Regions from separate parts of the Homo sapiens genome. Here region 2 is linked to region 1. Evidence: fine-mapped expression QTL. A gene starts in region 1. The other region holds a variant in brackets. All regions are shown on one strand. Distances are between the middles of the regions. Region 1 holds the start of SLC25A19 (solute carrier family 25 member 19). Region 2 overlaps ARMC7 (armadillo repeat containing 7).

Region 1 (12,077 bases):
AGCTACTCGGGAGGCTGAGGAGGGAGAATGGCGTGAACCCAGGAGGCGGAGCTTGCAGTAGCCGAGACTGTGCCACTGCACTCCAGCCCGGGCGACAGAGTGAGACTCTGTCTCAAAAAAAATAAATAAATAACTAAAAATAAAAATAAAAATAAAAATCATATATTTAAAAAAAACATGCTTATCAAATAAAAGAAAAAAATAGATCGCACCACTGCACTCCAGCCTGGCAACAGAGCGAGACTCTGTCTCAAAATAAATAAATAAATAAATAAAAAATAGGCCGGGCGCAGTGGCTCATGCCTGTAATCCTAGCACTTTGGGAGGCCGAGGCGGGCGGATCGTGAGGTCAGGAGATCGAGACCATCCTGGCTAACATGGTGAAACCCCGTCTCTACTAAAAATACAAAAAAAATTAGCCAGGCGTGGTGGCGGGTGCCTGTAATCCCAGCTACTCGGGAGGCTGAGGCAGGAGAATCGCTTGAACTCGGGAGGTGGAGCTTGCAGTAAGCCAAGATCGCACCACTGCACTCCAGCCTGCATGACAGAGCGAGATTCTGTCTCAAACAAAACAAAACAGAACAAAACAAAAATAAATAAATAAATAAATAAAAAATAAAGAATGCTACCCCTGTGACAACACCTTCCTTATTTGGGCTTCCCCGGTCTGGCTCCTGGCCACTCACCTTGGGCTCACCCTGAGCTGCAAAGCGGGTGCGCAGAACATCCACGGGGTGCACAGTGAGGGTGGCCATACAGGCAGCCAGGCCACCACATACAAAGTGCACTGAGAATTCCCGGGCGTCATACACGCTGCCTCTGTGGACCAGCTCCGTCAGCATTTCAAATGACAAGAACTGCAAGAGTAAGTGAAGAAGTCACCGACAGCCCAAAGGATGAGGGTGAGGACCAAATACTCCCCAAATACATCACCCGTGACCCGGCTGGGGCCCAGGTGGAGGGGCGAGGAAAAGGTCAGGAAATGTTCTTCTTGAGCAGTGACAGCATATGATAAATACAACATTCTACGCAAAACTCGGATGCCATTTGATACTTGAGTAGAGTCAGACACTCAAAGGGTTAAGAAGATATATGGGGGCCAGGTGCAGTGGCTCACACTTGTAATCCCAGCACTCTGGGGGGCCGAGGCGGGCAGATCACGAGGTCACAAGTTCGAGACCAGCCGGGTCAACATAGTGAAACCCTGTCTTTACTAAAAATACAAAAATTAGTCAGGCATGGTGGCGGGCACCTGTAGTCCCAGGTACTTGGGGGGCTGAGGCAGGAGAATCACTTGAACCCGGGAGGCAGAGCTGCACTGAGCCAAGATCATGCCACTGCGCTCTCCAGCCCGGGCGACAGAGCAAGACTCGGTCTCAAAAAAAAGACTGGGTGCAGTGGCCCACGCCTGTAATCCCAGCACTTTGGAAGGCCGAGGTGGGCAGATCATGAGGTCAGGAGTTGGAGACCAGCCTGGCCAATATGGTGGAACCCTGTCTCTACTAAAAATACAAAAATTAGCCAGGCATGGTGGCGTGGGCCTGTAACCCCAGCTACTTGGGAGGCTGAGGCAGAAGAATCGCCTGAACCCAGGAGGCGGAGGTTGCAGTGAGCTGAGATTGCGCCACTGCACTCCAGCCTGGGCAACAGAGTGAGACTCTGTCTCAAGAAAAAATAAAAAAGATACATGAGAACAATGTATATCAGAAAATGTCACTGGCTAACTTAGTTTTCTGAGAACTGGGGAAGACGGCCATGCTCTGATTCCTGCAGGGACCCCTTCAGTGCAGCTGGCGGCGGCACCTGGTGGCGGCACTGTTCGAGAATCATTCTTTTCTGGGGCAGATTCTTTTGGGAGCATGTTCCACAGGGTGACCCCCTTACATTCAGATCTTTCTTTTTTTTTTTTTTTTTTTTTTTTTAGGGACAAGAGTGTCTCTCTGTCACCCAGGCTGGAGTACAGTGGCACAAACACGGCTCACTGCAGCCTCAACCTCCTGGGCTCCAGTGATCCTCTCACCTCAGCTCCTCAAGTAGCTGGGATTACAGGCGCATGCCACCATGTCCAGCTAATTTTGGTATTTTTTGTAGAACCAGGGTTTCACTATGTTGCCAAGGCTGGTCTCAAACTCCTGAGCTCAAGCAATCTGCCCGCCTTGGGCTCCCAAAGGGCTGAGATTACACACATGAGCCACCGAGCTTGGCCCTGTTTTGCTTTTTGAGGCAAGGTCGTGCTCAGTTGCCCAGGCTGGAGTGCAGTGGCTCGATCACAGTTCACAGCAGCCTTGACTTCTCTAGCTCAAATTATTCTCCTGCCTCTGGAATAGCTGGGACGACAGGTGTGTACCACCATATCTGGCTAATTTATTTTTTATTTTTAGTAGAGAGGAGGTCTCCCTAATGTTGCCCAGGCTGGTCTCAAACTCCTGAGCTCAAGCCATCCTCCCACCTCAGCCTCCCAAAGTGATGGGATTACAGGTGTGAGCCACTATACCAGGGCTATGCTCAGATCTTCCTTCAGCCAACTGAAGATGGCCTGGCTTCTTTTCTTTTTTTGAGACAGGGTCTGGCTGTGTTGCCCAGGCTGAAGTGCAGTGGCATGATCGTGGCTCACTGCAGCCTCCGCCTCCCGGGCTCAGATGCTGGGATTACAGGTGTGAGCCACTGAGTCCAGCCCACGCCTGGCTTCTTGAGACTATCCTGTTGCTGTATTTATTCGTCATGCTGCAATATCTGTTTGCAGACAAGTGCAGAGACAGGATCGCAGGGCATGCCCAGCCAGTAAGCACCTGACTTGGGCGGTCACTGTGATGTCACAGGAAGAGTAGGAAGGGACATCTCTGGCACTAGCTGCCTAGGTGGGGGTCGTGGCTCTGCCATTTTCTAGCCAGTGGCTTTGGTTGGGTTAATTATGTAAGCTCTGTCCACCTCAGTCTTCTCATGCATGACATGGGAGGGACAACAGCCCCTACCTTAAGGACTGCTGTGACAGAGTGTATGTGAAGTGCTTCCAACAGGGGCCTGGCCCATGGTTTGCACTGTACAGGGCTGGTTCTTAAACACATCTACTGCATAAAATCACATGCTGTGCACTATGACTATACTAGTGCTCCACTGAACGAAGCATGAGTTCTAACCCTAGCCCCGCCATGTGCAGGCTGTGTGGCCTCGGACAGCTGACTTCTCCTCCCTGAGATCCACATGACAGCTACCCTGCCCTCCTCATGACGGTGTGGTGAAGTTCAGATGAACCACATATGTGAAGGTGGTATTTCAAAAACTGAAATGCATTAGTGCTGTCCTTCGCCAAGCCTCACAGAAGGCATGACATCAAATCGGTCTCCAAGATGCAACACCTAAGTCACACAGGATAGACGCAGGGACATGGCGGAGGGCAATGCCTACGGTACTGCTGGTCAGGAAGGCTCCCGGGTGAGGCAGGTGGGAAGCGTGGGGCCTGCCTCTTCCGTCCTGCCCTGCGCGGCATTCCTGCTTGCCTCACCCTCCCTCTGCTCCTCCACTGAGCAACGTGACCCCAGAGGTCTGGCCAGGTCCCTTGCCACCTACTTGGACAGCTCCATAGCCTATGGAGAGAATCTGAGCTGGGACGTGTCCTTTCCAGAAAGCTGTCGGACCCTCCTCCTGCAGAATCTGCCTAGAGGCCTGGAGGATGCCATGGTACTTTGCGCTGGGGTCACTGCGAGACAGGCGCTCATGCTGAAGCTAGGAATCAAAATAAAAAAGGTCAGGACAGTGGGGTGGGCTGGAATGTGAAGGGGAACTTTCAGAAAAGGCAAGCCCTTCATCTGGATAGAATTCCAAGTTTTAGGAACTGCTTTTGCAAGAAAGACTGAACTTGTCCTCCAGTCCATTGCATGGAAAAAGGGGAAGAGTACCTGGAAACGGATCTTGATGACGTCGAAGGGACTGATCAGCGCCCGAGTAACAAGTCCAGACACAGACCCAGCCACTGCCACCTGGAACTTGGTGTTATTCCTGCCATCTGGTTTGGGGTCATAGCCAACCATCCCTGCCTCTGGCCCACACAATGTCCATCAGTATCAAGCTAAATGCAAGAGATACGGAATAAACACCAGGCAAGTTTCTTATGGTCTCTGCTCAAATATCACCTCCTCAGAGCAGCCCTCCCTGACTAGACTGTCTAAAATAGCACTCACTTTTGGACTGGGCGCAGCGGTTCATGCCTGTATCCCAGCACTTTCGGAGGCCGAGGTGGGTGGATTGCTTGAGCTCAGGAGTTCAAGACCAGCCTGGGCAACACTGCAAAACCCCAACTCTACAAAAAATACAAAAATTTAAAAATAAAATAAAATAGCACTTGTTTTATTCCTCTTTACAGTACTTATTACTATGGCATATTTGTTTACTTTTTTAGAGACAGGGTCTCACTCTGTTGCCCAGGCTGGAATGCAGTGGTGCCATCATAACTCACCATAGCCTTGAACTCCTGGGCTCAAGTGATTCTCTTGCCTCAGCCTCCCAATTAGCTGTCACTTAACAGGTGCAGGCCTGGCTAAGTTTTTTATTTTTGTAGAGATAAGGTCTCAATGTTGCCCTGGCTGGTCTCGAACTCCTGGCCTCAAGTGATTCTCCTGCCTCAGCCTCCTGAATTGCTGAGATTACATGCATGAGCCACAGCGCCCGGCACGCCATGGGTTATTTATACAGTACATTTGTTTCTTGTCTCTCTCCCTGACTAGAATGTAAGCCCGTGGAAACACGACCTTGGTCTCATTTGTTCACTCGTAAATTTCCGGTTCCTGGAATAGAGCCCATCATGGTAAGTGCTTAATAATATTTGAGAATCGAATGAACAGGCTTGATAGGCAATTGTTGGTCCCAGAGATCAACTGGTTTTCCAAGACATCTGGCAACTTTATAGCAAACTCCTGCTCACTGAGTGAGCCCACTCAAGTGTAACGCTGAGGGACTGAAGGACGTGCAGGGCTGGAGAACAGGGATTGGGATTCTTTAACAATCCCCCACTGTCCAAAGGAAGAGCCCTGAGGCCCTGAGCCCCTTCACCTTTCCCTTTCCCCTCCTGCACACACCTCAGACCACCCCGGCACAGTGGGGCCATGCTACGCTAGCAAATGATGCTCCTGGCCAGGCACCGTGGCTCACGCCTGTAATCCCAGCACTTTGGGAGGCCGAGGCGGGTGGATCGCCTGAGGTCAGGAGTTCAAGACCAGTCTGGCCAACATGGTGAAACCCTGTCTCTAATAAAAATACAAAAATTATCTGGGTGTCGTGGTGGGCGCCTGTAATCCCAGTTACTTGGGAGGCTGAGGAGGGAGAATCACGTGAGCCTGGGAGGCAGAGGTTGCAGTGAGCTGAAATCACGCCATTGCACTCCAGCCTGGGCTACAGAGTGAGACTCCGTCTCAAAAACAAAAAAACAAAACAAAACAAAAAAGAAAATGACGCTCCTGGGCTCCCCTGACTCAGACCTACTGACCTCTTCAGCCTCACTCTGGACCACTCTTCCCCTTCCCTCATTTAACCAGAGTGGTCTGACTGCTTCTGCCCAGTTCCTGGAAAACTCGGGGAGCACTCCTATCAATTGCCTTGCCTCTACTCCTCCAGTTCCCTACGTCTGAAATACAGCCCCACTCTCAGCCCCTACTCACTTTTTCAAGGCTAGCTCCTCTCATCCACCAGAGCTCAGCTAAAAAGCATCCCTTCCAGGAGATGTACTTTTTTCCTTTTTTGTAAAAACAAAAAACAAAAACAGTAATACCTACATACGGTCTGTAGAGTTGTACAAAGCATAGAAAGAAGTCTGTAACCACACACATCAACAGGTAGTTGGTAACTGATCACAGGGAGAAGGGCTGAGAAGGGAAAAAGGAAGGTAGACCTGTCGATAATTCTATACTGTTTGAATTTGTTATGGCAAAAAAAAAAAAAAAAAATCCCTAAAACTAGCCTTCAGAATTACCCTAGTTCTTGAATACTTGTAGTAGTGGGGGTGGGGGTGGGGGAGGAGGGGAGATACTACCTACAGGATGGCAGCCTCCACCCCAGACATCAATTCCTTTTCTCCTCTCACCCACCCTGGAACTCCTCCCCAGGCGCCCATGAGGAAGTTTAAACACGCGGCAAGCGACTGAGAGGCAAAACCTCTCCAGGGGTTACCCAGGGACCGCTCAGGTCACACTGAGCAGCGTGTTTCCCGCCCATCTGGGCAGAAAGGAGGAGCAAGCCCGAGTGGCAGGTGTCCTGGATCGCTGTCAGGAGACCGGAGCATACCAGGCTCTTCCTGGTGTTCGGGTGCCCATGTGCCCAAGGGCTCAGCTGAGCAAATCTGCAGAGGTCCCCGTGTGGGTACCTAGGTGTCCACGTGTGCCTCGGGGTGTGTTTTTTCTCCTTGAGTCCGAGGGGACGCCCTGGAGCTCAGGTGCTCAAGGGCGTGCGCGGGGCTCGGCCGCCGGTGTCCCTGGAGATGCTTCTCTGGTCTGGTGTGACACGTGTGTACACAGTCCCCGCCCTCTCGTGAGCGCCCGGGTGCGTGTGCTCCCTCCCGACCACCCTGAGGAGCGAGGGTGCTGGTCCCCGAGAGGGCGGCGAGAAGGACGGAGGTAGAGGTTACTCACACGGCTCGGCGGGTGCGGCCCGGCTCAGCGCTCTCCGCTCTCTCTAGCTCCTCGCGCAGTCTTAACAGCAAAACTCTACTGAGCTCGGACGAAACTGGCGGGCTCCTGGGCCAATCACCGTGCAGCTCCCCGCCAGACGCTGGACCAATGGTTGTGCGCTTGAGGTCTGGCAACCGCCTCCCGCAAGATATCACCGGGTAATGTAGTCCTTCGCGACCAAGGGCAGGACAGCTGGACGGCGCACAGCTTCCTGGGAGATGTAGTCCGGCTGCTCGCGGGCGCGCGAGTTCGACCGACGCGTTAGAAGGAGGTGCCTTGCGAAGCCGGGCTGCGACCTTAGGGGTCGCCGTGCTCTGGCGTGTGACTCGAAAGTCAGCCTGCAGGCGGGGTCCAAGGTTAGGGCGCGGTAGACTTGACCCGCTTTCCTCAAACTCTGTTAATGCCAGAACCCGGATAATCTCAACTTGGTAAAGATGGCAGGAAGCCTAGCAAAAAGCTGGAGGACGTCGGGAAGAGAATAGATGAGAACAGTCCCCTCGGGGACGGGGAAGGCAAAAACACGAGTGTCCCCCCCTCTCACCCCGAGTTTTAGTATTTCTCATTATAAAAGTAATATTAAAAGTATATAGACAGAAAATATAGAAAGGAAGGAGGAAATGACTCATCCTACCGCCCGCACACAACTAGCGTCACGGTTTTGCGCGACAGTATTGCCTCCTGACTTTTTAATTGCATTTTTATATTCGTGTTATCATTTTGACGCACAATTTTAAGACATTTTTATTGTAGAAAATTTCAAGATACACAGAAGTGGAATAACCCGATGAAGCCGCGTAGAGTCGCTCTCCGACCTCAGCAGTTACGCGACTCATGGGGCAATCTTGTTTCCTCTATTTCTGCACCTACCTCGCACGCGCTGCCCAGCGTTATTCTGAAGTAAATACCATCACGTGTTTTCACCAGTAAATATTTCAGTATGTGTCTTTAAAGGACAAGCATTCCCTTTTTAATACGTATACATTATGCTTCACACACACACAAAACTGTCACTCCGACCCCCCAAAAAAACTTTTAATATCAAATATGAATTAGTGTTTACACTTTTCTGAAAGAAAGAAATGTTCTTCTTTTTTTTTTTTTTTTTTTTTTTTTTTTTTTTTTTTTTTTTTTGAGACAGTTTTGCTCTTGTCGCCCAGGCTGGAGTGCAATGGTGCTATTTCAGCTCACTGCAACCTTTGCCTCTGGGGTTCACACGATTCTCCTGCCTCAGCCTCCCGAGTAGCTGGGATTACACGCGTGCACCACTATGCCCAGCTAATTTTTTGTATCTTTAGTAGAGATGGGGTTTTGCCATGTTGGTCAGTCTGGTCTCAAACTTTTTTTTTTTTTTTGAGACAAGAGTCTCACTCTGTCACCCAGGCTGGAATGCAGTGGCACGATCTCGGCTCGGTGCAACCTCCACCTCCCGGGTTCAGGTGATTCTCCTGCTTCAGCCTCCTGAGTAGCTGGGACTACAGGCCTGCACCACCATACCCAGCTAATTTTTGTAGTTTTAGTAGAAACGGGGTTTCACCATGTTGGCCAGGCTAGTTTTGAACTCCTGACCTCAAGTGATCCACCCAGCTCGGCCTCCCAAGGTTCTGGGATTACAGGTGTGAGCCACCGTGCCTGGCTGAAATGTCCTTCTTAAAACAAGTTGTTTGCTTTTCTTTCTTTTTTTTTTGAGACGGAGTCTAGCTCTGTCCCCCAGGCTGGAGTGCAGTGGCGCGATCTTGGCTCACTGCAAGCTCCGCCTCCCGGGTTCACGCCATTCTCCTGCCTCAGCCTCTCCAAGTAGCTGGGACTACAGGCGCCCGCCACCACGCCCGGCTAATTTTTTGTATTTTTAGTAGAGATGGGGTTTCACCGTGGTCTCGATCTCCTGACCTCGTGATCTGCCCGCCTCGGCCTCCCAAAGTGCTGGGATTACAAGCGTCAGCCACCATACCCAGCCACAAGTTTGCTTTTCTAAGTGACAGAGCTCAGAAAACAAACAAAAATGTTTGTCTGAATTGAGATCTTGGTTGGGTGCAGTGGCTCACACCTGTAATCCCAGCACTGGGAGGCTGAGGTGGGTGGATTGCTTGAGGTCAGGAGTTCAAGACCAGCCTGACCAACATGTGAAACCGCGTCTCTACTAAAAATACAAAAATTAGCCAGGCATGGTGGTAGGCGCTTGTAATTCCAGCTACTTGGGAGGCTGAGGCAGGAGGATCACTTGAACCTGGGAGGGAGAGGTTACAGTGAGCCGAGATCGTGCCACTGCACTCCAGCCTGGGCAACAGAGTGAGACTCCGTCTCAAAGAAAAGAAAAAGAGTTGAGATCTGAACTGAACATTGCAACTGGAAGTCCTTTTAAAAATCTATTGTTTTTCTCCACTTTACTTTTTTTTTACTTGAAATTTGTTTTCTTTCATTTCCTTTCATTTTCCTTTCTTTCTCTATTTTATTATATTTGTTTTTTTTTAAGAAACTAGATAGAGCCAGGCTGGGGGTGCACACCTGTATTCCCAATATTAGGGAGACTGAGGGAGGAGGATCCCTTGAGCCCAGAAGTTCAAAGCTGTAGTGTGCAAAAATAGTGCCTGTGAATAGCCACTGTGCTCCAGCCTGGGAAACATAGCGACACTCCATCTCTACAAAAACTAAATAATACATTTTTTAAAAGAAAGAAATTAAGTGGTTTATGCTGTGGCATTTTCCCTAGTCTGGATTTTGCTGATCGCATCCCCATGGAGTTGTTTCCACATCTTCCTGTGTCCCTTGTGTTTTTTGTTTGTTTGTTTGTTGTTGTTGTTGCTGTTTTTGAGACAAAGTCTCACTCAGTTGTCCAGGCTGTGGTGCAATGGTGCAATCTCGGCTCACTGCAACCTGTGCCTCCTGGGTTCAAGGGATTCTCCAGCCTCAGCCTCCCAAGTAGCTGGGATTACAGGCACCCGCCATCATGTCCAGCTAATTTTTGTATTTTTAGTAGAGATGAGGTTTCACCATGTTGGCCAGGCTGGTCTCGAACTCCTGACCTCAGCTGATCTGCCTGCTTTGGCCTCCCGAAGTGCTGGGATTACAGGCGTGAGCCACCACACCTGGCCCCTATGTCCCTTGTGTTCTCTGCTAATTGGTAATTAGATCTAAAAGGTTTGATTAGACTGGGTTTGACTTTTTTTTTTTTTAGATAAGGTCTCACTTTGTCTCCCAGGCTAGAGTGCAGTGACACGATCTCAGCTCACTGCAGCCTCTACCTCTTGGGGTCAAGCTATCCTTCTGCCTCAGCCCCTAGTAGCTGGGACTACAGGCACGCGCCACCACACCCAGCTAATTTTTTGTATTTTTTGTAGAGACGGGGTTTTGCCATGTTGCCCATGGCAGTCTTGAACTCCTGAGCTCAGGCAATCTGTCTGCTTCAGCCTCCCAAAGTGCTAGGATTACAGGTGTCAGCCACTGAACCTGGCCTGATTTTTAAAATTTATTTCTTTATTTTTTGAGACAGAGTCTCACTCTGTCCTCCAGGCTGGAGTGCAGTGGCGCAATCGCAGCTCGCTGCAAACTCCGCCTCCTGAGTTCAAGCGATTCTCCTGCTTCAGCCTCCTGAGTAGTCGTGATTACAGGCATGTGCCACCTCGCCCAGCTAATTTTCGTATTTTTAGTAGAGACGGGGTTGTTTCACCATGTTGGTTGGGCTGGTCTCAAATTCCTGACCTCATGATCTGCCCGCCTTGGCCTCCCGAAGTGCTGGGATTACAGACGTGAGCCACTGCGCCCAGCCTTTTTTTTTTTTTTTTTTTAGACAGAATCTTGCTGTGTTGTCCAGGCTGGAGTACAGTCATACAGTAGTGTGATCTTGGCTCACTGCAACCTCCGCCTCCAGGGTTCAAGCGACTCTCCTGCCTCAGCCTCCTGAGTAGCTGGTACTACAGGCACATGCCACCAAACCTGGCTAATTTTTGTACTTTTAGTGGAGATGACGTTTCACCACATTGGCCAGGCTTGTCTCAAACTCCTGACCTCAAGTGATCTGCCCACTTTGCCCTTCCAAAGTGCTGGGATTACAGGCATGAGCCACTGTGCCTGGCCTGATTTTTTTTTTTGTAAAGACAGTCTCGCTCTGTTGCCCAGGCTGGAGTGCAGTGGCACAATCTTGGTTCACTGCAACCTCTGCCTCCTGGGTTCAAGCAATTCTCTTGCCTCAGCCTCCTGAGTAGCTGGGATTACAGATGCCCTCCACCATGCCCGGCTAATTTTTGTATTTTTAGTAGAGATGGGATTTCACCATGTTGGTCAGGCTGGTCTCGAACTCCTGACCTCAGGTGATCCACCTGCCTCAGCCTCCCAAAGTGCTAGGATTACAGGCATGAGCCACGGCGCCCGGCCAACGTTTTTTTTTTTTTTTTTTTTTTTTTTAAATGAGACTACTTACATGGTGTTGTGTATTTCCATGAGGAACACCATAATGCCTGCTTGTCTGTCATTTTGTGATGTTTGCAGCCATCGTGTCTCAAAAAAGAATTGGTTCCTGGCCAGATGCGGTGGCCCACACCTGTACCAGCACTTTGGGAGGCCAAGCTGGGTTGGTCATCTTGAGGTCAGGAGTTTGAGACCAGCCTGGCCAACATTGTGAAACCCCTGACCTCAAGTGATTTGCCTGCTTCAGCCTCCCAAAGTGCTAGGATTACAGGCATGAGCCACCGTGCCTGGCCTTAATTTTTGGTAGAGACAGCATAGGATCTCCCTATGCTGCTCAGGCTGGTCTTAAACTCCTGGGCCTCCCAAAGTCCTGGGATTACAGGTGTAAGCCACCATGCCTGGCCTTTACCAAAGAAATCTTTGCCTAGTCAAAGGTTATAAAGATTTTCTCCTATGTTTTCTAATAGAAATTTTATAGTTTTAGGTTTTACATCTAGGTCTCTGATCCATTTTTAGTTATTTTTTGTTTGGTATGAGATATTGAAGGTTTTTTTCTTGTACTTGGATATTTAATTGTTCTAGTACATGGAACTCTGTTTTTGTTGAAAAGTCTATTCTTTCTCCACTAAACTGCTCTGTTCATGTTTGTTGAAAATCAGTTCATGTGTACACAAAATGATGACCTTTTTTCTTTTTTCACTCAATGCAAGTAATGATAAGCATTGTCCACACAGGAAAAAGATAGTTAAAGGTGTTGCCGGGCACGATGGCTCACGCCTGTAATACCAGCACTTTGGGAGGCCGAGGTGAATGGGTCACCTAAGGTCAGAAGTTCAAGACCAACCTGGCCAACATGGTGAAACCCCGTCTCTACTAAAAGTACAAAAATTAGCTGGGCATGGTGGCAGGTGTCTGTTATCCCAGCTACTCAGGAGGCTGAAGCAGGAGAATCACTTGAACCCAGGAGGCGGAGGTTGCAGTGAGCTGAGATCACACTACTGCACTCCAGCCTGGGTGGCA
Region 2 (12,077 bases), 170 kb before region 1:
GCACTTTGGGAGGCTGAGGTGGGCGGATCACCTGAGGTCAGGAGTTCAAGATCAGCCTGGCCAACATGGTGAAACCCCATCTCTAACTAAAAATACAAAAATTAGCCGGGCATGGTGGTGGGCGCCTGTAATCCCAGCTACTTGGGAGGCTGAGGCAGGAGAATCGCTTGAACCCGGTAGGCAGAGGTTGTAGTGAGCCAAGATGGCACCACCGCACCCCAGCCTGGGCAACAGTGAGACTCTGTCTCAAAAAAAAAAGCAATTTCAGGCGGGTGAGGTGGCTCACACCTTTAATCTCAGCACTTTGTGAGGCCGAAGCAGGGAGATCACTTGAGTTCCGGAGTTCAAGACCAGCCTGGGCAACATGACAAAACCCCATCTCTGCTTTAAAAAAAAAAAAAAAAAAATTAGTCTGGCGTGGTGTCCCAGCTACTCAGGAGGCTGAGGTGGGAGGATTGCTTAAGCCTGGGAGGTCAAGGCTGCAGTGAGCTGGGATTGGGCCACTGTACTCCAGCCTGGGTGACAAAACGAGAATCTGTCTCAAAAACAAAAATAACTCATATTTAGTGTTTTCATATCAAGAGAAGCAGAGATGGCTTGCAGTCTGTAACTTATGGCTTCTGTAGTTGTTATGATCTTAAGACCTATTGAGTTATTCACTGGGTAGATATTTATTGCGCGTGTACCGTATATGCAAGCTACTGCTCTAAATGCTGGAGTATGGTGAACAGCTTAGGGAAAGGTCTTTGCCCCTCAGGAGCTTACATTCTAGTAGGGGGGACAGGTGGTTAGCAAACAAAAAAGATGATGCTCAGAAGGAAGTAAATGGGGTGATGAGAGACAGCAGTGGAAGGTGGGGGTTACTTCAGTTTTGGCCATCATGAGAAAGGCATTTTAGCCGGGACACAGCATGGGCAAAGGCCTTAAAACAGGAAGGAGCCAGACGGAAGGCTGATGTGGGAGGATCGTTGCAGTGAAGTGGAGAATGGCACAAAAAGAGTTTAGAGAGTTCAGTGGCACCAGAGCTTGCAGGAGTTTAGATCTAGGCCGTGGGAAATAGTTTGAAGCAAACAAAATTTTGAGAACAAACAAAAATTCCTTTTTCAAGCAATGCAGTGCCCACCTGTAGTCCCAGATACTCAAGAGGATCGCTTGAGCCCAGGAATTTGAGGCTGTCGTGTGCTGTGATTGCACGATTGCACCTGTGAATAGCCACTGCACTGCAGCCTGGCCAACACGCGCGTAGTCACCTGGCTGAAGTCTTGTCAGGCTTCTCCACTGTAAAATTACTCTTTCTTTCCCCTCTTTACGTATGATACCCATTGGAAGGAAGTCACTACATAAATTATCTTAAATCTCTCTTTTTATTCTCTTTTTCTTTTTTTTTTTTTTTTTTTTGAGATAGGGTCTCACTCTGTCACTTAGGCTGGAGTGCAGTGGTGTGATCATAGCTCACCATAAACTTGAACTCCTGGGCTCAAGCAGTCTTCCTGCCTTAGCCTCCCGAGTAGCTGTGACTACAGGTGTGCACCACCATGCCCAGCTAATTTTTTTTTTTTTTAATTTTTTGTTGTGACAGGATCTCACTGTGTTGCCCAGACTGGTCTCGAACTCCTGGCCCCAAGAAATAAATCCCTTGTAACCCTAAACAGACCCTCATTTCATAACACTGATTCTCGAAGGCCCCAACCAGGAATGCAAATGTTCCCCCTTCCGGTTTGTCTCATTGCCTCTTTGTGGTTTCTTTATCCCCTTTATTTCCTATAATCCAGAAATTGGGTTGAATGTCTTGATAGGATCAAATAACACATTTTTTATTTTATTTTATTTTATTTTATTTTATTTTTTGAGATGGAGTCTTGCTCTGTCGCCCAGGCTGGAATGCGGTGGTGCAATCTCAGCTCACTGCAACCTCTGCCTCCTGGGTTCAGACAGTTCTCCTGCTTCAGCCTCCCGGGTATGGGATTATAGGCGCCCGCCACCACGCCCGGCTAATTTTTGTGTTTTTAGTAGAGACGGGGTTTCACCGTGTTGGCCAGGCTGGTCTCAAACTCCTGACCTCAGGTGATCCGCCCGCCTCAGCCTCCCAAAGTGCTGGGGTTACAGTCGTGAGCCACCACACCTGGCCCAACTAACACATTTTTAAAAATACTTTTTATTTATTTATTTTTTTTTTTGAGATGGAGTCTTGCTCTGTCGCCCAGGCTGGAGTGCAGTGGCGCGATCTCGGCTCACTGCAAGCTCCGCCTCCCGGGTTCACGCCATTCTCCTGCCTCAGCCTCCCAAGTAGCTGGGATTACAGGCGCCCCCCCACCAGGCCCGGCTAATTTTTTGTACTTTTAGTAGAGACGGGGTTTCACCGTGTTAGCCAGGATGGGCTCAATCTCCTGACCTCGTGATCTGCCCGCCTCGGCCTCCCAAAGTGCTGGGATTACAGGCGTGAGCCACCGCGCCCGGCAAAAATACATTATGATAAGTGTGATTCAAATTTTTCAAAGACCATCCAGGTCTCCTCTAAAGAGGAGAGGAGATTCCTGGGGCCAGACTACAAATGAGGGTCTTCTCTCCATGAGGGGGCTCCAGCACATGTGTGTGCGGATTCACACCCCCACAGACAGCTGCCCCTTGGCCACTCCCTGGGTTTGGAAGTGCACACACCAACAGTGGCATTCACTCCTGGGAGTCAGGATCCAAGAGAGAGGCCCATGCAGCCGTGGGAGCAGGTTTAGGGCCTGGAGCTCCAGGTGCAGGGGAAGGACGGCTGTGGGCTTTGGGTGAGCTCCCTGGACTTACTGCCCCACAGAGGACCAGAGTGGGGCCTGCTAAAGCCAAGCCAGGGCAGGAGCCCCAGTTGCCCAGGTCCCCGAGTGATGCCAGCTCCTCTAGAAGATTATTATGCCAAACAAATATTCTAAAAAGTTGGTCTCTAAAACGTCCTCCGTCCCGTCCCTTTTCGTGCCTCTGCCCCCACAGCTGCTGCAGTCTGAACGGTGACGGTGGCCCCTGCAGAAGCATGTGGCTAAATCTCCACCAGGGGGCGATAGAGCTCCTCCAAATCAAGCTGCTGCCCCTGGAGAAAAATTGGCGGAAGTCACAGAGCAGTCCCCACCAAAAGTGTTTACCAAGTGGAGTCTTTCCTGCTGGCGTTTCCTCAGGGTCAGGAAGCAACTTTCCCAGGACAGGGGCACCCTGAGGTCCGGGTCCACTGAGCTATGGGGGCGGCGTGGGCCTGGGCTGGGTTCTTGCCATCCTGGGCAGCTTCCCGGCGTGGGTGACTGAGCCCGGGTCCTGGAGTCCGCGGTCCCAGCGTCTCCACTTCTCAGCTGATTCCTAGAAGCTGAGTCCCGTCCCTTCTCCGAGCGTGGTTTCCTCTCCCGCCTTGCCTGCGTCGCAAGCAGTTGTGGGAGCAGAAGTGTGTCTGTGCATCTGTGTCTCTGTGCAGGTATTTTAGAATTGTTAGGATCATTATCACCAGCTTTACTTTTCCCAACCATTTTTTTCCTCCTTTTTTTCTCTTCCTTCTTCTGCCACAGCAAGACCCCCCCGCCCCAAGCACAGTAGCTTTCTCAGCGTCGAATCCCTCCGTGGGACCATGTTGCAATGAAATTTCAACATGCAAATGAAATTTCTCGAAATTTCTCTTGTGTTTATTATGCATGACTGAGAAGGAGAGCCCCCGCGTATTTTCTTACTGCCGTCGTTTCCCTTTCTCTTAGTGTCTCTGCTTGGGGATCCCCGACAGGCACTTATTCTGCTGTTTCTGGAGAAGGCTCTGTGCTGCGCTTTGGAGCTTTGAGTCTTTTATCCGATGTGGCAGCCCTGAGATTGTGATCTCCCTGAGCCAGAGCCAGCCTTACTTCTGTCTGCATGGTTTGAGTGCTTAGGCCTTTTGGCCTAGGGAGGAGGAAAGAAGGGGAAGAAAAGGCAGGAGATCTTCACTTAATAGGTGTGGAGTCCTGGCCATGACTTGGTGCAACACCCCTGAGCAGGGTTGGTTCTGGAAGGACTGGCACAGTGGAGAGCTGAGTCAGATTGCCCATGGCTGTGGCTCGCAGAACCAAAACCAAGCTGGGTATGGTGGCTCACACCTGTAATCCCATTTGGGAGGCCGAGGGGGG[T/A]GGATCACTTGAGGTCAGGAGTTCGAGACCAGCCTGGCCAACATGGCAAAACCCCGTCTCTACTAAAAATACAAAAATTAGTTGGGTGTGGTGGCGCACACCTGTAGTCCCAGCTACTCGGAGGCTGAGGCAGAAGAGTTGCTTGAACCAGGAGACAGAGGTTGCAGTGAGCCAAGATCACGCCACTGCACTCCAGCCTGGGTGACAGAGCAAGACTCTGTCTCCATAAAAAAAAAAAGGAACCAAAACCATTGTCTGCTTGGTTGAGCAGGGTGGTTCATACCTGTAATCCCAGCATTCTGGGAGGCTGAAGCAAGAGGATTGCTTGAGCCCCCAGGAGGTCAAGAGCAGCCTGGGCAACATAGCAAAACCCTGTCCCTACAAAAACAAACAAAACAAGTATCTGCTTGTTGGCAGGCAGCACAGTGAGTTGGATGAGAGCTGGGCCCTGGGGTCAGGCAGGCATCTGGGTGTGGGCTCTCTCTCCTCCAATCATCTGTCAGATGGGGACAGTGCCAGTAGCTGCTTCACATCAGTTGAGAGAATTAAATGAAACACCACAGTGCTCTTTTAGGGTTAGTGTCTGCAGCCATAGATAGGATTCCCTTGGTTGCCATCCAAAGACAAATACCCAAAACCCTTTGAGGGTGAGCTGTCGCCCCTTGTCCCAGAGAGGTGAGGTGCGGGATGGGATAACGTCCTATCAAGGGAATCACTCATCTGCTCCAGGAATTCTTACCTTCTGGAAAAACATCACGGAATGACAGGAACACCGATCCTCAGCCTCCCAGAGGGTGCCCAGGCAATGTCAGGTGGGGAGAGCCTGGCTGCAGGCCCGGTGCTGTTGTGCCCCCATCACGGATGGCATTAGCTCACACTTGGGGAGCACCCACTGCATGCCAGGCGCTTGCATCTTGTGCATTGGACATAGTACTAAAGTAGATGTGCTTACACCGCCTTCTTTCCAATCAGGACTCTGAGGCTTAGAGAGGTTCTGTGGGCTGGCCAAAGGTTTAAAGAGTACCAGACCTAGGCCGGGCATGGTGGCTGACGCTTGTAATCCCAGCACTTTGGGAGGCCGAAGTGGGCAGATCACCGGAGGTCGGGAGTTCGAGACCAGCCTGACCAACATGGAGAAACCCCATCTCTACTAAAAATACAATTAGCTGGGTGCGGTGGCACGCGCCTGTAATCCCAGCTACTCAGGAGGCTGAGGCAGGAGAATCGCTTGAACCGAGGAGGTGGAGGTTGAGGTGAGCCAAGATCACGCCATTGCACTCCAGCCTGGGCAACAAGAGTGAAACTCCGTCTCAAAATAAATAAAGAGTACCAGACCTGAGACTTAAACCCAGAGCAGTCAGAGTCTACAAGCTAGTCCCTTGGCCCTTTTCCTGCCCTTAGAGGAGTTCCAATTCCTAGGATTGTGGAGCGAAAGCGAGAAAGGAGTTTACTCCAAATTGCTCATTTTATCAATAAGGAAGCTGCGGTGCAGACAGCTGCCCCTCGTCTGGCTGTCGCAGGCCAGGATGAGAATGCAGGCTTCCTTCCGTCTGTCCCTGCAGCCACCACACTCACAGGTACCCTTCCATGCTGGCTTTGCTGTGGCAGCTCTGAGTGAGGTCTGCTCTTTGGCCCAGCACTTCTGCCTCCTCTCTGAGGGCTGGAAGCTGGATGCTATCCAAACAAATGGATTCGCTCACCCTGCACACTAAGGCCAATTACTGACAAAAATCGCAGTGAGAAAGTGAGGCTTTGTTTTTGTTTTTGGTTTTGGTTTTTTTGAGACAGATTCTCACTCCGTTGCCCAGGTTGGAGTGCAATGGTGCAATCTCGTCTCACTGCAACCTCCGCCTACCTGGTTCAAGCAATTCTCCTGCCTCAGCCTCCTGAGTAGCTGGGATTACAAGCACCCGCCACCACACCCAGCTAATTTTTGTATGTTTAGTAGAGACGGGGTTTCGACATGTTGGCCAGGCTGATCTCGAACTCCTCACCTCAGGTGATCCGCCCGCCTCGGCCTCCCAAAGTGCTGGGATTACAGGCGTGAGCCACTGTGCCCAGCCAAAAGTGAGGCCTTTATTGTGGGGCGACAAGCAAGAAGAATCCGGCAGCTCATGCTTAAGACCCAAATTCCCAGATGGCTTATGGTTAAGGGTGTTCAAAGGCAGGAGGCAGAGGTTACAGACAAAGTTTTAAATCAACACCAGGAGGCTATATATTGGTTTGGCCTAAGAAGGCAGGATGTCTCCAAGGGATGGGGCACAGATCATAGGTGGCTTCAAAGATTTTCTGATTTGTGAGTGGTTAAGGAGGTGAAGCTTTGTCTACAAATTTGGCATCAGCAAAAAAGAATGTTAGCTATAACCTGTGGGCATGTCCTCCAGGCCCCTCAGGGAGTCTAAAGAGTGGTCAGAGTGTAGTTTTCAGTTCCCCTTATCTGAGGTCTCAGTGCCAGGGGAATTGTTTGTTGAGGGTCCAGATTTCTGAAAAGCAACTCAAGGACAGATATTAAGATGTTATCTTTAGGCCGGGTGTGGTGGCTCACACCTGTAATCCCAGCACTTTGGGAGGCTGAGGCGGGTGGATCACTTGAGCTCAGGAGTTCAAGACCAGCCTGGCCAACATGGTGAAACCCCGTCTCTACTAAAAATACAAAATCTAGCTGGGTGTGGTGGCAGGAGCCTGTAATCCCAGCTACTCTGGAAGCTGAGGCAGGAGAATCGCTTGAACCCAGGAGGCAGGCAGAGGTTACAGTGAGCCAAGATCGTGCCACTGCACTCCAGCATGGGCGACAAAGCAAGACTGTCTCAAAAAAAAAAAAAAAACAAAGTTATCTTTAGTTTCTATGGGGAAACCAGACATCCCCTGATTCTGACTTCCTTGGCTATTGTTTTAAGCTAACTATTACCTTCTTGCTTATCGAGTTGCTCACTTGCTTCTCAGGGCTAGCTAGGTGCCTGGAATTTCATGAAGGGACTCAAGATTTTCCTTTATTTCCATGCTTGGGGGCCTGCAGGCCCCTAGAGAAGCCCCTGCTCTCTCTCCATGTCAGCCAGGGCTTCAGTCTGGCCTCAAGTGTTCCCATCAGCGGTGGCAGTGGAACTACAGTGGCAGCAACCACTTGCCAACAGGGGCCTGGCCTCACTCACCGTCGTCTCTGTGTGGCGGTCTCTTTCTCCTGTGGCTTCCTCTCAGTTGCCCGCCGTCGGCACCGCCACAGCCATGAGGAAGGATCCGGCTACAGCGACCGCGGAGAACACGCACGGGTTTTCAAGTCTCTGGCCTCTTTTGTGGCCTCTTGTGGATCTGCCCATTTAGAGCAATTGTAGAACTAGTTTATTGACCCTTTCTGTGCTTCTGGCTGCCTTTTCTGCCCAGGGTCCAGGGCTCCTGTTTGGGTGCTGTTGGGATAAAAGCTGCCTCTCCTGGATGCCCGCCCAGTGCACACCATGTGCTCGCCACACGCCCACCTGAACCAGCCTGTCCACAAGGCCTCTGAATCGGTCATGAACGGCAAGGCCGATGGTTCTAACCCCTTTGTACATATCGGGAACCCCCACCACCAAGTGAGGGCAAGTCCACTGCCTGGGGCTCCCGCTGTTAGTGATAACTGGAGCCAGGACTTCGCCCCTGTCATCCAGGATCCAAATTCTGTGCCCTGGGAACCCAGCTGGCACCAGGCTCAGACTCTAGTCCCTTGTTCTGGCCTCAAACTCCTGGGCTCAAGTGATCCTCCGACCCCAGCCTCCCAAAGTGCTAGGATTACAGGCATGAGCCACTGCACCCAGCCCCAGTGGCAGTTCCTCTATGACACTGGTACACTGGACTGTACACTGGTACACTGGTACACTGGACTGGTACACTGGACTATTCACAGGGGATTATTTGTTCTTGGGTTTTCCTTCAGTGTCTTGAAAATGGCTCCTTCAATTTCAAGTCTGAAGGACAGACAGTACATAGAGTAAGCTACCCTTTGTGTGAGAAGGCAGGGTGGAGATGAACACACCTCTGTGTATGCACTCACGCTGGCAAGACACAAAAGTGTAATAAGGAAATGGGTTAGTACGAGGCAGGGAACAAGGTAGAAGGGACCAGAATGGTGGTGAGACTTCTGAAAATACCCTGTGATACAGTTTTTTCTTTTTTTTTTTTTGAGACGGAGTTTCGCTCTGTCGCCCAGGCTGGAGTGCAGTGGCGCGATCTCGACTCACTGCAAGCTCCGCCTCCCGGGTTCACGCCATTCTCCTGCCTCAGCCTTCCCAGCAGCTGGGACTACAGGCACCCGCTACCACGCCCAGCTAATTTTTTTTGTATTTTTTTTTTTTTTTAGTAGAGACAGGGTTTCACCGTGTTAGCCAGGATGGTCTCGATTTCCTGACCTTGTGATCCGCCTGCCTCGGCCCTCTCAAAGTGCTAGGATTACAGGCGTGAGCCACCACGCCCAGCCTGCTGTGAAGACTTTGACCCTGGGCTGCTTCAGCTCAGCATGGGCGAGTCCCCAGATGTAGCTGTATTTTGAGCTGCCCTTGCCGAGGGCCTGCCCAGCCACCAGGTGCCAGGTGCCAGCTAAGCACTTGTCAGAAGCATCACCTCGTTTTGTTTTGTTTTTGAGATGGAGTCTCGCCCTGTTGACCAGGCTGGAGTGCAGTGGCATGATCTGGGCTCATTGCAACCTCCGCCTCCCAAGTTCAAGCCATTCTCCTGCCTCAGCCTCCCAAGTAGCTGGGACTACAGGTGAGTGCCACCATGCCCAGCTAATTTTTGTATTTTTAGTAGAGATGGAGTTTTGCCATGTTGGCCAGGGTGGTCTTGAACTCCTGACCTCAGGTGATCCACCCTCGGCCTCCCAAAGTGCTGGGATTACAGGCATGAGCCCCCACGCCCGGCCAGCATCACCTCATTTAATCCCTGGGACCATCCTTCAACCTTCCCTTCATGGTCCAGGTTGTCCCTCCCTGCACCAGTGCCCAACATGGCGTGTGAGCTGAGGTCACCCACCTGACCTCCCTGAGTCTCCGGCTTTCTCATCTTGCTTTCATGTGGGGTTTCCTCTTTTGCCTCTCCAGGGTTCTCGTGTAGAGTTCCTGTGTGTCCTGATGTCTGGAAGGCCCTGCCCTTGCTTCTTGTTTTCTCTCTGTCTTGTGCAGAGCATGTTCATCAGGAAGTCGGAACTTGTTCTCCTTTCTGTTTTATAACGATTTTTAAGACTGCAGTATGGTGGCTGGGCACGGTGGCTCAGGCCTGTAATCCCAGCACTTTGGGAGGCCGAGGCGGGCGGATCACGAGGTCAGGAGATCAAGACCATCCTGGCTAATACGGTGAAACCCCATCTCTACTAAAAATACAAAAAATTAGCTGGGCATGGTGGCGGGCACCTGTAGTCCCAGCTACTCAGGAGGCTGAGGCAGGAGAATCACTTGAACCTGGGAGGCGGAGATTGCAGTGAGCTGAGATCGCACCACTGCACTCCAGCCTGGGCGACAGAGCAAGACTCGGTCTCAAAAAAAAAAAAAAAAAAAAAGATTGCAGTATGATCAACAGAATAAAATGCACATATCTTAAGTGTCAGTTTGGTGAATTTTGAAATTCATTGAGCTATGTGTACATCCATGTAAGCAGCTCCTAAACCAAGACGTAGAAACTCCCTTCACACCCACGCTGGGTCAGTATCTCCCACTCCAAGGCAACCACTATTCTAACCTCTATCCTGTGGATTTGCTTTGCCTGTTCTTGAACTTCATACAAACAGAACCATGCAGGATCTACTCTCGTATCTGATTTCTTTCACTCAACATTATGTTTTTCAGATTCATCCAAATTATTGCAGTATCATCCATTCCTTTGGATGTGCCACAATTTGTTCATGCATCTGCCTGTAGACGGAGATTTGAATTGTTTCTAGTTTAGAAGCTTTATGAATGAAGCTGTTAGGATCATGTTCATACAAATATGTACTCATTTCTCTCACCTAGGAGTGGAGTTGCTCAGTCCTAGGGTAGATGTGCGTTTAACGTCATGAGAAGCTGCCAAATCACTTTCCACGTAGTTACACCAGGTTATGCTATATGCTCCACTTCCTTGCCAACACTTAGTATTGGCCTTTTTTTGTTTGTTTTTGAGATGGAGTCTCGCTCTGTCGCCTACGCTGGAGCACAGTTGGCACAATCTCGTCTTGCTGCAACCTCCGCCTCCTGGGTTCAAGCAATTCTCCCACCTCAGCCTCCGGAGTAGCTGAGGTTGCATGTGTAGGCCACCATGCCTAGCTAATTTTTGTATTTTTAGTAGAGACAGGTTTTCGCCATGTTGGCCAGGCTGGTCTGGAACTCCTGACCTCAAGTGATCCACCCTCCTCGGCCTCCCAAAGTGCTGGGATTACAGGTGTGAGCCACTGCACGCAGCAGCAGTGTTTTTTATTTTTGCTATTATGTTGAGTGTGTAGTGGCATGTTCTTGTGGTTATACTTTTTATTTCTCTGATACGTAATGAGCACAGTTCCATATGTTTTGGCCCTTTTGCAAAGAAGACTTTGTTTAAGTCTTTTTGCTCATTTTCAAAATTGGGTTGTTCATCTTTTATTGATATGCAGGAGTTCTTGATGTGTTCTGGATACCAGCGTTCTGTCAGATGGATAGTCAGTGAATGTTTTCTCCTTTTGCCTTTTTACTGTGTTAATGGTGTCGTTTGATGAGTTATTCTCCTATCTCAGTGAAATTCAGCTTTTAAAAAAGAATAACATCTGGCCAGGTGTGGTGGCTCACGCCTATAATCCCAGCACTTTGGGAGGGCGAGGCAGGTGGATCACAGGGTCAGGAGTTCAAGATAAGCCAGGCCAAGATGGTGAAACCCCATCTCTACTAAAAATACAAAAGGAAATTAGTCGGGCATGTTGACGGGCGCCTGTAATCCCAGCTACTCGGGAGGCTGAGGCAGAGAACCCCGGAGGTGGAGGATGCAGTGAGCCGAGATTGCGCCACTGCACTCCAGCCTGGGCGACAGAGCAAAACTCCGTCTCAAAACAAAAACAAAAAAGAATAATATCTTTTAAAATTATTATTATTATTATTTTTGACGGGGTTTCACTCTTGTTGCCCAGGCTGGAGTGCAGTGGAGTGATCTCGGCTCACCGCAACCTCCGCCTCCTGGGTTCAAGCGATTCTCCTGCCTCAGCTTCTCGAGTAGCTGGGACTACGGGCGTGTGCCACCACGCCCAGCTAATTTTTTGTATTTTTAGTAGAGATGGGGTTTCACCATGTTGGCAAGGCTAGTCTTGAACTCCTGACCTCAGGTGATCCTCCTGCCTCACCACCCAAAGTGCTGGGATTACAGGAGTGAGCCACTGTGCCTGGCCCTGGCTTTTTTAATTTTTAAAAGAATATCTGTAGAGATAACGTTTTCCTATTTATTAAACACCTGCTAATGCGAGGCTGCTGATAGAGAATGAGACAAGGCAGAGTCCCCATTCTCACGGAGTTTATAGTTTAGTGGAGCAACAGCCAATATTTTGACAAATAACTACTGTAATGTCAGTAAGTGTGAAGGAAAGAAGCAAAGCCTGGTGAGGGGGGCGTGGTGGGGGGGCAGGTTAGGTGCTCACAGAAAGCTCTTAGAGGAGGTGGCGTCTTAGCGGGCCTATCTTATTGTATGTACAATCTGGTGTCCTTCTTCCCTCCTTCATCTTAAATTACAGGCATTTTCTAACATGAATTATTCTTTGGACACTTTTTTTTTTTTTTTTTAATTTTTGAGGTGAAGTCTCACTCTGTCGCCCAAGCTGGATTGCAGTGGCACGATCTCAGCTCACTGCAACCTCCACCTCCTGAGTTCAAGCAATTCTCTTGCCTCAGCCTCCCAAGTAGCTGGGACTACAGGGACACACCATCAGGCCCAGCTAATTTTTTTTTTTTTTTTTTTTACTTAGTAGAGACGGGGTTTCACTATGTTGGCTAGGCTGATCTTGAA

What was found. PIP is the estimated chance that this variant, and not a neighbour inherited with it, causes the effect.
Region 2: its variant is fine-mapped to the expression of SLC25A19 in whole blood (TOPMed, PIP above 0.99).

What each region holds. Positions count from the first base shown.
Region 1 is chr17:75,282,737-75,294,813 of GRCh38, forward strand. It overlaps SLC25A19 (solute carrier family 25 member 19), which reads right to left and starts at 6,697. Exons shown (of 8, transcript NM_001126121.2): 1 at 6,618-6,697; 2 at 5,766-5,855; 3 at 3,897-4,066; 4 at 3,568-3,723; 5 at 687-857. The coding sequence starts at 4,028. RefSeq lists enhancers at 5,842-6,343, 6,776-6,975, 7,066-7,115, 7,156-7,205 and a silencer at 11,801-11,990.
Region 2 is chr17:75,111,196-75,123,272 of GRCh38, forward strand. The region is part of intron 2 of ARMC7 (armadillo repeat containing 7); the gene reads left to right. Among named protein-coding and RNA genes, the nearest start is that of ARMC7, 7.3 kb to the left of the region's middle. RefSeq lists enhancers at 2,745-3,284, 3,726-3,785, 3,826-3,875. The variant T/A (reference allele first, on the strand shown) is at 4,119.